3 separate regions of the Homo sapiens genome follow, and regions 2 and 3 are each linked to region 1. The links come from fine-mapping of genetic effects on gene expression. A gene starts in region 1. Each other region holds a variant in brackets. All regions are shown on one strand. Distances are from middle to middle. Region 1 holds the start of STX18 (syntaxin 18). Region 2 overlaps STX18 (syntaxin 18). Region 3 overlaps STX18 (syntaxin 18).

Region 1 (5,537 bases):
ACAATAATAATCAGTCTGTTTTTTTAAAATACATACATATAGACTATGTGAGTAGGGTAACTCAGAAGCTACCCTACTTAGCTTGTGAGTTAAGTAGGGTATTATCACGTCCACTTTATAGAAATGGAAAACGAGAGTCAGACTTGCCCAAGTTCACCCATTTCTAAGTAGCAGAAGCGAGATTTGAACCCAAGGCCCAGGTCTCTTTCCAATCCCATCATCCTCACTAGTCCCACACTTCAAATGAGTTAACTAATCAAATTCCCATTGCAGAGTGACATATTCATTATTATTTGGAGTTGTTCGAATAATATAAGTTCCTCCCCCAAATAATCTGAAAAGTCGTTACTCTCCATTTGTAATTTAATGGGTAGACATGCATTTGAGTATATATAAATTTAGTAAAATTGAGCATAAAAGTTAAATGTTTAAAAGAATGATGCAGAAGCAATCAGCCTGTTGTTGGAAGGTAGGGACTGCAATAAAATTGCAGTTTCAATGCAATTTTATTCAACTTAATATAACCTCTACAACAATTCAGTGAGATGGAAATCTGGCATCAGGCATATATTTGAGGAATGGAATGGAAGAATAGAAATTGAACCAGATAAAACGCATCCTAGAAGTAACAGCAAATGCTTCAAGGAAGGCACTTACCAAAAGGCATACTATAACTTATTACATTTCATTAAGTCTGACAACCAGGGCTAAACCTGAATTAGAATATGTGCTTCTGGTATTTACCAGACTTTTCTCTATAAGGAATCCAGGCCAAACAAAATAACAGCCAAACTTTTGACATCTAATTGTAGTAAAAGCACAGGACATCCATCACTAGCTCTTCTAGTTAAACTTCCCACAAGAGAAGATGGGGAGTGGGGAACGGTTGCAAGAACAGGAGATAATACACAAAGCAATGACAACATAAAATCAAAATTGCTTAAAAGAATGTATGTTTCCTCTACGTCAGGGGGACAGTGTCCCTGAACAACACAGCCCATGAACTCACTTAAGGTGATGTGACACCTACTCACATCAATACATAGCAGAACTGCAAGTTGCATTGTCATGCGGTCCAACCCTGTGACATATGCACAAAGCTTTTCTCAAACATCTCTGAAAAGCAGTCATCACTCTGTTTAATCACTTCCAGTGACAGGGAACTCAGCACCCTATGGGACTGTTACTGTCCCTGAGGCCCATTAACTCAAAACTCAAACACATTTTCACCACTCAGGGAGAGGTGGAAGTGATCACAGGGCTCTCCAAAGGGCTTGCCAACCCAACTGTGCCTCCTGTCTCTACCATTCCCAAATCCCCCCTTTCCCTGAGCAGGACTCAAAATTAGCACAGTGTTAATAAATCAGTGGTTTCAGAGTTAGAAGGGACCCTTAAAAAGCCAATACTGTGATATTCATACCACAGTTCTACAAAAGGAATCTCAAGAAGTGCTTGGGCCAAACTGGGAGGGAGAGTGTCCTGTTTCTCTTCCTCTTATTTCAACCTAGGAAGCTCCCACTTTAATTTGTTACATATAGAGGACCAAGGTAGTTTTTTAAAAGGAGGAGGAGAAAAAAAGGACCATTTACAGGTAAATAAACTGAGGTCTTAAAACTTGCTTAATGAAATCATATAGCTAATAGTTGCAGGGTTCAGACAACAACCTCGTCTCTTGGCTCCTTCTCTGGTGCTTTCTCTACCAGATAACATCTGACCATCTACAGGGCAAAATTCAAACTCTGCAATGATACACAAAGCCCTTTAAGATCTCCGCGTCCAATTTTTATGAGAGTCCCACATTCCAGTCTCACTCAAATGTTTATTGAACCAACTTATGTCAGACTGTTACCTACCTCCACAGCTTAGCGCATACTATTCTCTTAGCCTGAGATGTCCTTCTGCACTGGAACCAACTAATCCTCTTTCAAGATTTGTTTTAGGCATCATCGCCTCTATAAAGCCTTTTCTGGTCCTCAGGTAGAACTGACCACATTCTTTTTGTGCCCTACACAACACCTGCAAGGCTTTATGGCACTTGTTTTATGTCTATGTCCGTCTACTCCACCACTGCTTTTACATCATATTACTCTAACACGAGGCTGGTCAGAAGGTAGGTGCTTCATAGACGGTCATCAATAGGGCGAGTGTATTCATCTGGTCCAATCCCCTTTCTAATGTTTAAGTATCCTCTGCTAACTGTCATTAATGCATGCATGACTACATTCATTCAAAAATATCTGAGTGTCTATACAGTGCCAAGTGTATGCCAAGCAGAGAAGGATTTACTGTGAAATTAATGAGGCTTAAGCTTTAGGGTCCCTCTCTTCAATCTTCCAAAGCTCTGAATCTTTCTTGGTGATTTTTATTTCTTGAAGAGGGCAGACAGAACTATATAAGCTGTAGGCCCCACAAAACCTAGATACCTCCTTGGTGTCACGAACACAAAAGGGAACAAGACAAACAGCTCTCCCCTTATGGAGTTTTCTGTTTAATGGGAAAGACAGCCATTTGTTCATTCACTCATTCAACAAACATTTACTAAGCAATGCTATGAGTCATGCATTCTGAGATGAAAACAACACTGTCCCTGCCCTTAAGGAAAAGGTTCCTGTTCCCAGGGAGATGAAGGGACACCTGCTCTGATCAGGGAACAGAAAGTAGTTGAGGTGACTGTAACACTGTGTTTGCGAAAGATTACCCTAAACCCGTCTCAAGAGGAACTGAGTCCTACTTATTGCAGAGACAAAGGGAAGAAAGAGTTCGGCTGAATACAGTTTTTAATCTCAACTAGGGGTGGGAGGCAGACAAGTAAATAGAACAGGCAAATATGGTGTGGTCAGTGCTGCAACAGGAAGCGAAGGACTGTCAGGAGGTTTCCCCTGAGTGCAAGTCTGTAGTGACGGCGAACTCATGACCTCACAAAGCCGCCCATGCACTTTCCAGATAGAGATTTCTGAGGATCTCCTTTCTTGTCCCCCAATCCCTGTCGCCGCAGGAGAAATCTGTTCCCCAATATGCGTCCCCCTTCCTCAAAATAAGGCTGTTCCTTCCCCCAAAAAGCTGTAGGGTCTCTGAGGCCAACTCTTCTGTCCCCCTTAGAGCCACCCCCTTCACACAATGCTTACGGGACGGGGTCTGGTTTGGGGCCCGGGGTCCCTGTCGCAGGACTGCCCCCTCCTCAACCCGCCGTTTCCATAGCAACCAGCTCACCACTTCGCGGGCCCGGCTGGAGAAGTCGCCCTTGGGCCGGGGGCTCCGGCGGAACAGCTCGTCCCGGCTGCCATCGACCCCGCCGCCCACCGCCACTCCCAGCGCCTTGTTCCGCGTCTTCACGGTCTTGACGCTGGCCCGGAATAGCAGCGTGATGTCCACCGCCATAGCGACCCGCACCCTCAGCCCCACACTAGGCCCGCCCACGTAAGCAGCCGGCGACCGCGGCGCGAACCCGGCCGCTGAAGGACTGGTCCTGCCCCACACGCCTCCCCCCGGCAACGGCGACGCGAGAAGAAAGGTTCCGGCCTGCGCCCTGCTACCGCGGCGGGAGGAAAAAGGTTCCGGCCTCAGCCGGCGCACCTGGCGGAGGAGGAACCTCGCGACGCGCTCTCGGGCATCGGTTTCTCCCAGCAAAGCTTGGAGGGTTTAGCTGCGCGGAGAGCTCAGCGAGCTCTTCTGTGTCTGTTTGGGGCGTGTGGGCTCCGGGAGCGTGAGGACCGGGAAGCTAGGAGGCTCCTTCCCTTCTGGCGGCTCCCTCACTGAGACCGGGCGGTTTGGTTGCGGGGGAAGTGGAGACGAGCCACCCTTGACCTTTGACTGCAAGAACTCACCTTGAGCAGGATAGAGGCACGTGGACGGTGACCCTCGGGATGCAATAAATGCTGAGACAGATCAGGTGTGCAAGGCACAGAGCTAGAGGCCAGAGGCCTTTCTTCTCCAACCTTCAGTCACCTCTTTTTAAAGTGAAGCCAGCATCCTCCTCGGGGTTTACTGTGAAAATTAAGTGAGCTGACGCGTGCTGTGTTTTGATGTTGCTTGGCTCCTAGTAAGTGGCCAATAAATGGTAGTAATCGTTAATAATGTTATTATTATAATCACTGTTATTTGTGGTAAAGGAAGAGGCTTTAGAGAAAAGGCGTCACCTGTGCAGAGATTTGAAGGATGAATAGGAAGTTTAGATGGAGACAAAGGTGAAAGAGTGGCCCTAATGCCGCTGGATTCTCTTCATCCTTCATGCATAGTTTTTAATTGTACCGTCTTGAGCCATAGCTATTAAAATTGACAACTCAATCAATGAGTTTCTTCTGCATTTTAGGTTCATGTTCTGTTTTGTGTTGTTTTTTGAGACGGGGGTCTACTATGTTGCCCAGGCTGGATTGCAGTGGCTAGTCAGAGGCGCCATCCTAGCTCACTACAGCTGGAACGCCAGGGCTCAAACGATCCTCCCGGACTCAGCCTCCTGAGTAGCTGGGACTATAGGCACGTGCAACCGTGCCTGGCCTATGGTTCAGTTTTAATTCAAAATCTCATTGATTTCTTCAAGATTTCTTTTTTCATAAAGAGGAAGCACAAGTAGAATATGTATTAAAACAGCAGTTTTAATGGTCATCAAGATAAAATTTTCACAATACTAAGATGTTATTTGCCTTTTCGCTCTGATTTTCTTATGAGTTGCATACAGTTGAGTTTGCTGGAGACTGTGATATTGCAACGGAGTAAATGCAGAACAGCTGTTTTCTATTAAGCCAGACTCCAAAAAAAGACTTTCAAAAACATCAAGTTTTTGTTTTGATTTCTCATATAGTAAATGTCGATAATGTCAATATAAACCAAAATTGTTTAGAGCCCTTAATAATTTTTAAGTGTGCAAAAGAGTTGAGACCAAAAGTTTGAGAACCACTGTGTTAAAAAAATAAAGTTTATCAGAAATAGATGTCAAGAAAGTATATATTTACCAGAAAGGAGGAAGGAAAAGATTTTTTTTTTCTTTGAGGCGGAGTCTTGCTCTGTCGCCCAGGCTGGAGCAAGCTCCGCCTCCCGGGTTCACGCCATTCTCCTGCCTCAGTCTCCCGAGTAGCTGGGACTACAGGCGCCCACCGCCACGCCTGGCTAATTCTTTTGTATTTTTAGTAGAGATGGGGTTTCACCGTGTTAGCCAGGATGGTCTCGATCTCCTGACCTCGTGATCCGCCTGCCTCAGCCTCCCAAAATGCTGGGATTACAGGCGTGAGCCACCGCGCCCGGCCAGGAAAAGATTATTTAAACCCAAACTGTAGCCACTTCTTGCAGTTTAAGGAAAATAAATTTCCATACAGCTTTCTTCCACCTACTGAGGAAAAGAGAAAGAAATTACAAAATCTCTGCCAATGATTCTATCTTGCATAAATGGCCCTTTGTTTAATCCAGACATTAATCAGTTTTTGGCCATGCAAAGTTAAGCCTGGGGTAGAGTAGAAGGAAAGAGAGATTGCCCTGCATAATAAAGTGAGGGGGATTGAATTGGGGGGAAGAAAAGAGAAGCCAGAACCCAGGGAGGGGGCCGG
Region 2 (5,486 bases), 120 kb before region 1:
TCTGACCCCTCGGTGGGGGCCAACGAGCTACCCATGTACATCCCTGGACATGAAGAGCTGGCCTGACCCTGCCAGGAGTACCCCCACCCACCCTGGATTGCTCCTTTGGAGGCTGGTGAGCCACTGCCTCTCGAAAGCAGCTGGAGGTGGGCGACAGGTGGTGGGTCTCATGAACACACGCAGCTCCGCGGTCACACAATTTTGTGATCAGCCCCGTGAGCTCTGCCCAGCAAGGCTCCTGGGCAGCTGTGCCGGCGAGACTAACACCCGCTGCTGGGACTCAGTGCTGCGCCACGTCGCACCTGGGGAACCTAAACAGTGCCTACCTCTCTTATGTCTTCGTTGCCTTCCTTGATATTTTCAGTTGCCCCCACAACTAACTGGTGAATGCTGTCAATCTCAGCTTCCTGTGGAAGAAAAGATAAATACAAGTTGAGTATCCTTTATCCAAAAACCTGAAACCCAAAATGCTCCAACGAGCATTTCCTTTGAGTGTCATGTCAGCGCTCAGAAAGTTTCAGATTTTGGAGCACTTAGGACTTCACATTTTGAAGTTTAGGGATGCTTGACATATACAGCCACTTCCTCCTCCCTGAAGCGTATATCATGACAAGAACAGTAGCCGTCACCAAGGGCTAACGGCTTTACTTGCATAGCCACAAATCCTCACAGCACCCCAAGAAGTAGGTATTACCTCTATTTTATGAAACGGAAACTCACGGCTCAGAGAAGTTTACTAACTTGCCCAAAGTCACATCACACAGCAACCAAGTGGCAGGACTGAGACTTTTTTTTTTTTTGAGACAGGGCTTAAACGATCCTCCCACTTCAGCCTCCCAAGTAGCTGGGAGTATAGGCATGTGCCACCACGCCTGGCTAAATTTTTAAAATTTTTTGTAGAGATGGGGGGTCTCCCTATGTTGCCCAGGCTGGTCTTGAACTCTTGAGCTCACACCATGCTCCCGCCTCGGCCTCCCAGAGTGCTGGGATTACAGGCATGAGCCACCGCGCAGGGCTGAGACCCCATCTTGTTGCAGTGCTCCTTCCGCCACACTTACCATCCCTCCTGCGCCACTCGCCGGTGACGGACAAAAACCTAAGAGCTATTGTTTGTGGAGCAGCCACCATATGCCAGGGGCTTCCCTTCTAGTCTCTCATTTCTTTCTGAAGTCCACAGAAGTAAGCTTTAAAATGTATGTGCTTCGAAATACATATGCTAGCTTCAAAAATAGTGCTTTGTGTTTTACTATCATCATATCTCTTAAAAAACAGGCTAAAATTTAAAAATCAAAATAGGATGCAGGATGCTTACAGAAAACGTTTACTCCAAACGAAGCCTTGAAAAGCTTGAGAAGCGTGGGATAACACAGGGGGCGTCTGGCCCCACAGGAGCAGAGACGGTGCTAGACGTCCTTACAAGCAGGAGTGCCTGCTTCTCTCCTCCTTTCGGTGGTGGTGAAGCTGCTTCCTAACAGGGTCAGGGCAGAATGAATGCTAGCGTGGGTTTTTAGAGAAACCTGACTGACACATTGTAGGGAGGAAGGCAGCATGTGGCCTCTGATTCCCAGCAATGAATATTACTGGGATGGCTTTGCCTCATCATCACCCCTTTTTAGAGAGTCTCAAAGTGTGAACTAAGTGACCACTGCCAAGGTTCCAATGAGAGAATCAATATGAACTACAATGCAACACTGATGGAAAAAACAAGAAAGACACATTGTTCCTCAGGACTTAGGAACTCCCAGTGGGCCGGGCGCAGTGGCTCTCGTCTGTAATCCCAGCACTTTGGGAGGCCAAGGCAGGTGGATCACCTGAAGTCAGGAGTTCGGGACCAGCCTGGCCAAGATGGTGAAACCCCGTCTTTACTAAAAATACCAAAATTAGCCAGGCGTGGTGGCATGCCTGTAATCCCAGCTACTCAAGAGGCTGACTGAGGCAGGAGAATCGCTTGAACCTGGGAGGATGAGGTTGCAGTGAGCCAAGATAGCAACATTGCACTCCAGCCTGGGCGACACAGCAAGACTCTGTCTCCAAAAAAAAAAAAAAGAAAAAGAAAAAAAAAGAAAAGAAAAAGAAACTCCCGGTGAGCCAAGGCAAGGCTCTGCCTATGCTCTGCACGCCCCTCCCAGGCCCCCTGGAGCCGCTGGGAGGTTTGAAGCAGGGTAGTGTTATTAAAAAGGGCGACTCCTATGAACCCGAACTTGCAAACCACTGTTAGACTTAATGTACCTCATTTACAATGATTTCACTCTGGCTGTGTGGTTTATGGAAAGTCATTTTGTGAGTGAAGTATCTTAAGTCAAGTAGTCCAGTTTAAAATACTGGAGAAAATTTTGTCTTTCAAACGTTCCCATAGTCTTTGGATGCTAAAAATAAAAGGGCAAATTTATCAGGTCTTGAAAAGTTTTGCCAGTTATTGGCTGGAAGAATTTCAGAAAATTCACTTGAAAAGAACAATCCTATTTCCCACGCAGACACCATCCCTGAGGTGGCATGGACCGCGCGTTGTGAGAGGCCTGGGTCTGAGCTCCTGTAACCTACTGACTGAAAAGCAACTGCCCGTCAGCATCGTGCTGGATGCTTCTGCAGTTATCTCTCAAACAGAGAATAACCCTGCAGGAGTCCCTCCCTCCTATAGATGGGAAACTGTAGCTTGTGGGGGCTACCTAGCTTACCCAGCACATCCAGAACCCTGACTGCCAGGCCTGGACTCTCCTCCCACGTGCCACCGCATGTGCTACCACATGGGGTGGTCAGTGGGTCCCCTGTGGGGAGCTCCTCCTCCATCACACGTGTGCAGAGGCAGCTCTGGGTAGTGAGAGCTTTTCCCTGAGGAGCTCTGCGCACACACACCTGCTAGCAACACATGGCTCTGCTCCTGGCTGTGTAGAGCAGCAGCCTTTGGGAAAAATGTCTCGTGCTCTCAAGTACATTCCCCTTTGAGTGAAAAC[A/G]TACAGCTCCTTTGTTTTTGTTTTTTTACCTGTTGCAAAACCTTTTCCGTGAATATCTCTTGGAGTCTGGAAATCTCAACCACTCTCCCTTCGATTTGCCTTCATAAAAAGAACAGATTACATATTAACTATTAGCACTTGGTAATCTAACAGGACTGTTACACACTTCTAAAGAAATCCTATCTTCTACGTGAAGGTGGGAGAGACAGGGGGCACACTGTGTCGGCTGGGGGAAGAGGAGATGGGAGAGGAAGGCGAACTCTCCTTACTGGGTCACCTTCCCTGTCTTCTGGCATAGCCTAGCACACTGGTCTTTTTGGAAGTCCACTCTACCATGCCAACTGACCCTCAGTCCCAAGAGGTGGGTGTGTGCAGTGCCCTTTGCATTCTGTGTCACTGCTCGGGGAATGGGGAGGGCCTGGTTGTGCCCCAGTTACAGAAAGCAGTCTCCAGTAAGTTCTCTGCCTAGCCTCATCACCATGGTAACACATGGTGGGGATTCAGAAGGTCAGAATATGCTGATGATCCAGCTTTGTTAATGCTCAGCAGGTTAAAGAAAAAAGTGTATTTACCTTCAAACCAACTCCCTGTTCCAAGAAAAAAGCTCCTCTGATTCATTTAGAAAATGCCATGTCTTGGTTTGGCAACGGAGTGTTCTGTCGGATCTGAAACACTTGGGCTAGCCATCTTCCTGGTGTCAGGGGCAGCATGGGCTACCCTGGGGGGCGGGTGGGGGCACATCTATTTAGAAACAGAAGCTGGCCCAAGCTGAAGTCAACTGCTGTTCCAGCACAAAGCAGCGACAGGAAGTGACAGGAGGCAAAAAGTGGTGGGAGCTGAGCTCCTGGCCAGGTGGAAGCAGTGATGAATCCCAACAGTATCACAGTGGCAGGGGGCAGGGGAGGAGATGTGGGAAGAAAAGCCAGTGAGTATCTGGGCATGGGGGAGTAGCGGGGTGGGGGCGGTAGTGGGGCAGACAGTGAAAGCTAGGCTGTCAGAGGAGGACTAGGAGGTCCATCTCTGAGGGCAGAAGGCGAAGAGCCCCTTGGAGGCTGACACCTACACTGAGAAAGTCCTCAGGCTGTGTGAGTGCAGCATCAGGATTGATTTTATTTGGGGGACATGTCCACAATACAACAGGCTCTGCAAAGTCCTGGGCCTTACTTTCAGCATGCTCCAAGCCTTCCCACAGAAACTAGAGGCTAACGGGTGCATGTGTGAGTGACCAAGGCCTTGCCTTCTGCATTCCTGACTCCCTGGTGGGTACAGGAGCAGGCAGACCCCAGTGGAACCATTTGCAGAAGAGGGCTTCCCTTGGTTAGCTGCCCTTCATAAGGGCCCCATTTCATTTCAGAGTCGCTGCGTGGAAACAGCCCGAATGGTGGTGGAAATTATACGCAGGTAATCTGTAGTCACTCCTGTATCTCTCGGGGTGGGAAGCACCTGGGCCCCCCGCAGCAGTGGCAGCAGGCAGGAGGTAACCCACAGGCCCACAAGCTGAGGGAGTTGTGGATTCAGGCCACATGCCCACCCCAGCCCAGTCAAAATGGCTGAGGGGGGCTGCACCAGCCCAAGGGCCCCATGGGGATGCCTGGGCACCAAGGTAAATAAAGTTCCTAGTTCCTGGAAAAGTTGTAAAGCAGGCTATCAGCTCACAGAGGAGCTACAAACATACCTCACTTCATCAAACAAGCTGTTCATTTCACCAATTAGTCGCTGATTTTCCTGTTCAAACTGTGAGGAAACAGACACACTCAGGATGACATCATACTGAACTTAGGCAAGAGTCTAGCAAGAAAGCGGACCTACGCTCCAGGAATCACTGCCGAAGCCCCCATTTCCAGCTGCGGCAACGTGGCAGCCGGTGCTGGACGACCGTTAGCATTAGTGTGAACAACGTCCCTGCTTTCAGGAGAAAGTTTTAAAAAACAGCTGTGCTGCCTGGTAATTGACTTCTCCATCTCAACCACTGCACTCCAGGGGTACAAGCTGACTGCTATGGCTGTAGCTGTATCTACCTACCCGCTCTCCCCTGGGATCCCACGGCCTGCTTCCTGACTCTAGTACCATTATTAAGAAAATTCTTTTGTTGTTGTTTTCTCTCATGAACTATACTGAAGGACTATACATATTTTTTAATATGGAGAAGGATCTGGTGTGGGGAGGGTCTGGAGAGGAAGGGGAGGTGGGCAGCTTGGCCGAGCTGCCTCTGGGCCCCTCTGACTTCAGAGCCTGGCCACTCCACTGCTCAACAGGGACAGAGGCCCAGAGCCAGAGGAGCGTGTTTCCCAGTGCTCAGGCTGGGTGAGGACGGGTGCCCTGACACCAGGGATACATGGGAGCTTCTTGGAGCTGAGTGAGCTTGGCACAGACAGTTGCTCTCCCAGCCATTCTTGCCAGTTTGATATGGGCCAAAGAAAAGGATGGAAGCTCCTGAAACTCAGCACAGAGAATGGACAGGAACAGCTCCTTGCCCTCACTGCAGGCCCCCACAGCCCTGTCCTCGTGTGTCCACTCAACTCCCGCAATGTGCAG
Region 3 (5,537 bases), 110 kb before region 1:
AGCCTCCCTCCAGTGGAGTGTACCCCAGGGTGGTGTCCATGACCCCTTCTCCTTTCTCGCTGTTCATCATGTTTCTAGAGAGCCTCACGCAAGCCCATCCTTCAAACATCAGCTGTAAGATGTCTCCCACATGCGTTTCTCTAGCCCGAGCCCTGGAGCCCATAGACACCTCTCATGAATGTCCCACAGGCGCCTCAAACTCACACCTGTCTACATGAAATTCATCATCTCCTGCTCAGCCCCAGCCTGCCCACCTTCTGTGCACCCTCCCTCCTCCTGATGACCCACGTCAGAAAGCTCAAGGTTCCTTCCTCATCTCACACTTCAGTGCAGGCCATTTCCTACACCACAGCTCTCAACACTACCTTCACTGCCACTCCCGGCTCAAGGCCCTCCTCATCTCTCAACCTGACTGACAGCAATGACTGCTTGGAATCCCTGCGGCTGTCTTCCTCTAACCACCGACTATACAATGTGCACCTCGAGGGCCTAGGTCCCACATTTGCTGGATTTGGTGAGCACTTATTTCAAGTCATAAGGTGAATTCTGGAACATGAAAGAAGCTGGAAAGGAAGGCAAGGACCTTGCAGGGCACTTTAAGGTGTTTGAGTCATTTTCTTAGTTCAGAATTATTTTTGTCTGTAAAGGACAAAGACAGCTCTGCTTAGTATTCCAAAGAAAATATCACAGGCTCTGAAGGAGAACCCCCAAAGCAAGTCTCAGGAAAGTCAGGGCTAATGGTACCATCACTGGAATCAGTTTCAAGCTTTCAAGGCGATGATTTTAAAGGGGAAACCACTCATCTGGGTGGATAAATCTGTGTGAAACTGAATTGTATATGAAAGGCATATGAAAATGGTCTGAGCTCCAGCTGCCATCCTGCATGCCCTGACCCTGCCATGATGGCATGCATGCCACAGTCCTTCCCTGCTCATGGCACACGGGCAGCTATGCCCAATCTCTTCCATCCTGTGCAGGGAGAGGCTCTTCTGCCTCTTTGTACAACCTGCCACTCTCAAGGGTAAAGGAAGGGGAAACAGAATTTTTCAAGCACCCCATGTGTCTGGCTCTTTGTTGCATGCACCTCATGGGCCAGCTCACTCAAACTTTAGCCCCACCTGTGGGGTGGCCATTTTTTGCCCATCTCACAGATGAGGGAACAGAGGTCCAGAGCAGTGAGAGGGCCCAGGGCTGCAATGATGAGGCTGCGTGTGGACTCCAGTCAGACAGTACACTGTTCCCACTAGGCTGTGCTACCTTTTGGCTTTTTTGTCTTCACTTGTCCATGCCATTTTTAGGAAAGAGATTTGGTTTCCGTCTTTTATTTCAGGCATGGAGAAGAAACAGGAAGTCCAAAGAGCAAGAGGATGCTGAGCCAGTCCTCTGCCCTTGGCGGCCAATGCTCACGAGAGCAGACATGTGGACCTGGCCATCCCTGGAGGTCCCCAGCCTGCACAACTATGCTTACAATGACACTTCGGTGGGCCGGCGCGGCTGTTCTGACTTCTCTGCCTGGCTGGCCTGTGTCAGTGTGCCACGCTGCTCCTGTGCAGCAACACTTGCCTAGACCACCAGAACCAACTGGAAAAAAAGCACAGGTTGGAGCCAAAGGTTGGCTCTGCTGCTCTACTGGTTCTGTGACGTTGGGTAGGGCTTTAGTTTTTGTGCGTCATTTTCTTCAACTGTGTAATAGTGATAATTCCTACTTGACTGGATTGTCATGAAGATTCAACAGGACAACATATGTAAAAGGCTTGGGATAGAGAAGGCATTCATAAGTATCCATAATACTAGTAATAACTGAACACTAGAACATTCTAATAGTTATTACTGATGATCCCATTTTACCATTGAAAACAACCTATAGCTTTTATGTTATACTCATCAAAGTCACTCATGCATTCAACAAAGAATTCCCCTGCGGAAGGCCGCAGGGTCCTCTGCCTAGGAAAACCAGAGACCTCTGTTCACTTGTTTATCTGCTGACCTTCCCTCCACTATTGTCCTATGACCCTGCCAAATACCCCTCTGCGAGAAACACCCAAGAATGATCAATAAAAAAAATAAATTAAAAAAAAAAAAAAAAAAAGAATTCCCAAACACTGTTCTGGGCTCTGGGTGAGGAAAACAAGACAAGATTCTGCTCTCACAGAGCTTGTGCTCTATGCGGGAAATCAAGTAGGGTCATGGGACACAGTATCTGGGAGCTGCTGTAGGTGGGGTTGCCGGGTCTGTCTGAGGAAAAAATACCTGAGACCTGTAAGACATGCCAGGAGTGGATAGAGAGAGCTTGAAATTTCAGGTGGCTTAAGCAGCAACACAAACGCCTCAGTCTGAGAAGCTCAAGGCTGGGGAAAGACTGGATCCCATTCTTCCTCAACAGAGCTGTCTTCATGCTCCACTCCTTATCTTCTTGAGGGCTGGAAATCCAGCTCTTCCCTGATTAACTAGGGGACTCTGGGCAAGACCCTTTGCTGCCTTTTGCCAATGTTAAAATGAGATGCTAATGTTCCACCACCTCTTTGTGCAATTATTAAAAGTATCATGGATAAAATGAGAATCAAAAAGTTTTGTCTACTGCAAACTGCTGCACACTTAAAATGCTATCACTTGCCAGGCACAGTCACTGGAGGCGTGCCGTGTGGTAGTCACATTCCCCACGTCTTAGAGGACAGTGTCACATCCTAGCAGCTCTAGGTGACATCTATTCCCACACACAGATAGCATATTCCATCTGGCTTCTGTCACACCAGTGTCCAGATGAGCTGCACACAGACATTGCTGGACGTGAGCTGGCAGGGGCTTGGCAGACCTATCAGTTCCTTTTGAAACCCACCCATAGATGGTAAGCTATAGCAGCTGGAAACCAGAAGGCAGGTAACTAAAAGGAGGTGCTATCAGTAGTTAAGGTGTTACTCTTTTCACTTTTCAGTCATTATCTTACTTTTTTCACATTACCATAGCACTAGCAATTCAAACAATTAAAAAGCATCATAGTGGCATTTATAAAAGACCCATTTAGTCTAGAAGACTATTTTACTGTTGTTGAAAAGACATCTATTATTAGTAAAATTCTTCCAAGGCAAAATGTCTTCTTTAATTATGCTACTGCAAATTTAAAGCATATGAAAAGCACCGTAAGAATTAGGAAATCAAATGGGAAAGTGTATATAAAATACACATTTATAATTTTTAAAACTCAGTATAAAAATAAGGGCAAGGGCATTGAGGATGAGTTTCTCCTTAGTGAAACAGTCTTATGAAAACCAGTTAAAAATAAATAATTAGGCAGAGAATAGCATTACCATTTGTATTTCTTCTGGGG[A/T]TAACTCATCTTCGCCTTTGCCATCTCCCCACGTTCCCAATTCAGGTTGTGTTTCAGCCAAAATTTTTTCTGTTAAAAAAAAAATTGAAAATAGAAGACCAAATATGTGTTTTAGAATAGGCTGGCTTAGGATGTAGTCATAACACAAACAAGAGATTAAACAGAATCTTACAGCTTTGTCTATATATTTCATGATCTTTGGGCTAATATTCAGGCACTGCAGACATGATTCTTTCACAACATTTAGGCTTTAAATTGTCTTTGTGCAGGCACGTGCATGTGTGTGTGTGATGGGGAGGGGGACCTATGCACGGTTTCAGTATCGCACTGATGTCAGCAATGGCTGCAAACTAAATGGACATTATTCAGAATGTCTTCAGAATTCTTCAGAATGAGTCTTAAAGTATGTTTTACTTCAAGACACATACACCCCTGTCTACTTTTAAAGACTGTAAGACATATTTTTATTGTAAAAAATACATATGCATATATACATACATATATATATATATACAGGAAGTGATATACTGTTCTCCAATCCTATTCCTCTCCCAGATGTTACTGCTTTGATGTAGCTTCATAGATTTTATCTAAAGATATTCACATACAAAGATATATGAGTCCCTGTCTACCCATGAAATTCAAGTAATACACAGTTTTGTGTGTATGGCGGCTTGCTTTTCACACAGATATCAATAGTAACATGCTGTTCTAAAACTTGCTTTGTATGATTTATTGATACATCTTGGAGATGGTCCAAGTAGATCTACCTTGTTCTTTTAAATTGCTGCATGATATTCCATCGTGAGGATACACTGGTCTTTAGCCATAACTACGCTGACAGACCTCAGTGGTTTCAGACTGTTCACTGGTGTCATGGTACTGTGTCCCGGTCTGTGCTATGTGCACATGCTGGAGTGACTCTCTAGGACAGATACCTGGGCATGCAACTGCTGAAAGGGAGCGTAGGAACATTTTAATCTGGAGAACTTTTTCATTATGATCAAGGAAAGGTGATGCATCCTCCATTGAAGCATGTCAATACCACAGGCCCCTAGAAAGGACTGCTGCCGCCCAGGATGACGGTAAGAGGTCTGTGCAGTTCATCACCGGGGTAGGGTTGGGAGCGGAGGGGAGAGGGATGGCAGGGATGGATCCTCGGGGGAGACTGTAATGAAGTCACTTTGTGTCTGTGTCTCAGGGCTTATCAGTGAGCTTCCAAGTACTCAAAGGCAAATACTGCTTCTTTTTCCTTTTTTCCTCAATCTCAGTAAATTTCCTGTAGTCAGTCTCAGCCCCATGAGATGGCAACAAGTCCAGATCTTTAAATAGGGGAAGAGAACGTAATGATAGCAACAATGTAGAGAAAGCTCACTAGGCAGGCCATGCCTGAAAGTTATGGTTATTTATTAGAAATATATCTTTACAAAAAAAACTGCATGTCATCCACAACTTAGTGCATGCAGGCTTTTAGAAAAATGGCTGTTTTTACCAGAAGTGTCATTATAGAAAAACATGTGTTTGTAAAAGGTTGGCTAAAAGTATCTTTAGAAATGATCTGATATTTTCCTGAGATGACATTCTTTGGGTAGGAACATTTGTACTTTCATCTACCCCCCACCCCCACCTTATGAGCTGTCTCCTACTTGTCCTCATTATGGTATCCATTTCAAGCTTTTACTGTTGTTGATTTCTTTTTTAAGGAAAAAAACATCAAAATTAGAAACAGAAACCTTGTTCATATCTGAACCAAGCATAAATTAACTCTGAGCTAGAATGGGAAAGTTTTCTTAGCAGAACTCACACTCTACAACATGCTCATTTGTGGCCATCAGAAGCCTTCTTGATAGGCTGCCCTAAGGATCAGCCTGAAGCACAGCACCCACCATGCCAGTCCTCTGCCCAGGCCACCCGTGCACCCTGGTGCCACAGAGGCAAGTCCAGACTCCCTACTCTGGCATTCAAGGCCCTACCCACCCTTCCAAGCTTACTCCCACCTCTCCTCCCACTGATGGGCTTCACTGATCCCCACGGGTCTTCTTTACTGACTATATCCCACCCAATCTCCAGGCTTTCTGGCCTCTGAGCATTTGCTCATGCTGCTGCCTCTGTCTAGAACTTTCTAAGCTTTCATTTTTTATTTTTTCAGGTCCAGACTCACTTTTTTTTTTTTTTTTTTTTTTTTTTGAGACGGAATTTCGCTCTTGTTGCC

The links.
Region 2: its variant is fine-mapped to the expression of STX18 in tibial nerve (GTEx, PIP above 0.99).
Region 3: its variant is fine-mapped to the expression of STX18 in skeletal muscle (GTEx, PIP 0.91).

The regions. Positions count from the first base shown.
Region 1 is chr4:4,538,587-4,544,123 of GRCh38, forward strand. STX18 (syntaxin 18) reads right to left here and starts at 3,462. Exons shown (of 11, transcript NM_016930.4): 1 at 3,211-3,462. The coding sequence starts at 3,378. It overlaps LOC124900165, which reads left to right and starts at 3,545. Exons shown (of 6, transcript XM_047416490.1): 1 at 3,545-3,889. STX18-AS1 (STX18 antisense RNA 1 (head to head)) reads left to right here and starts at 3,545. Exons shown (of 6, transcript NR_037888.1): 1 at 3,545-3,889. RefSeq lists enhancers at 3,332-3,611, 3,336-3,630.
Region 2 is chr4:4,420,538-4,426,023 of GRCh38, forward strand. STX18 (syntaxin 18) reads right to left here. Exons shown (of 11, transcript NM_016930.4): 8 at 4,627-4,685; 9 at 2,981-3,050; 10 at 327-407. Among named protein-coding and RNA genes, the nearest start is that of NSG1, 36 kb to the left of the region's middle. The variant A/G (reference allele first, on the strand shown) is at 2,952.
Region 3 is chr4:4,431,465-4,437,001 of GRCh38, forward strand. STX18 (syntaxin 18) reads right to left here. Exons shown (of 11, transcript NM_016930.4): 7 at 3,306-3,394. Among named protein-coding and RNA genes, the nearest start is that of NSG1, 47 kb to the left of the region's middle. The variant A/T (reference allele first, on the strand shown) is at 3,326.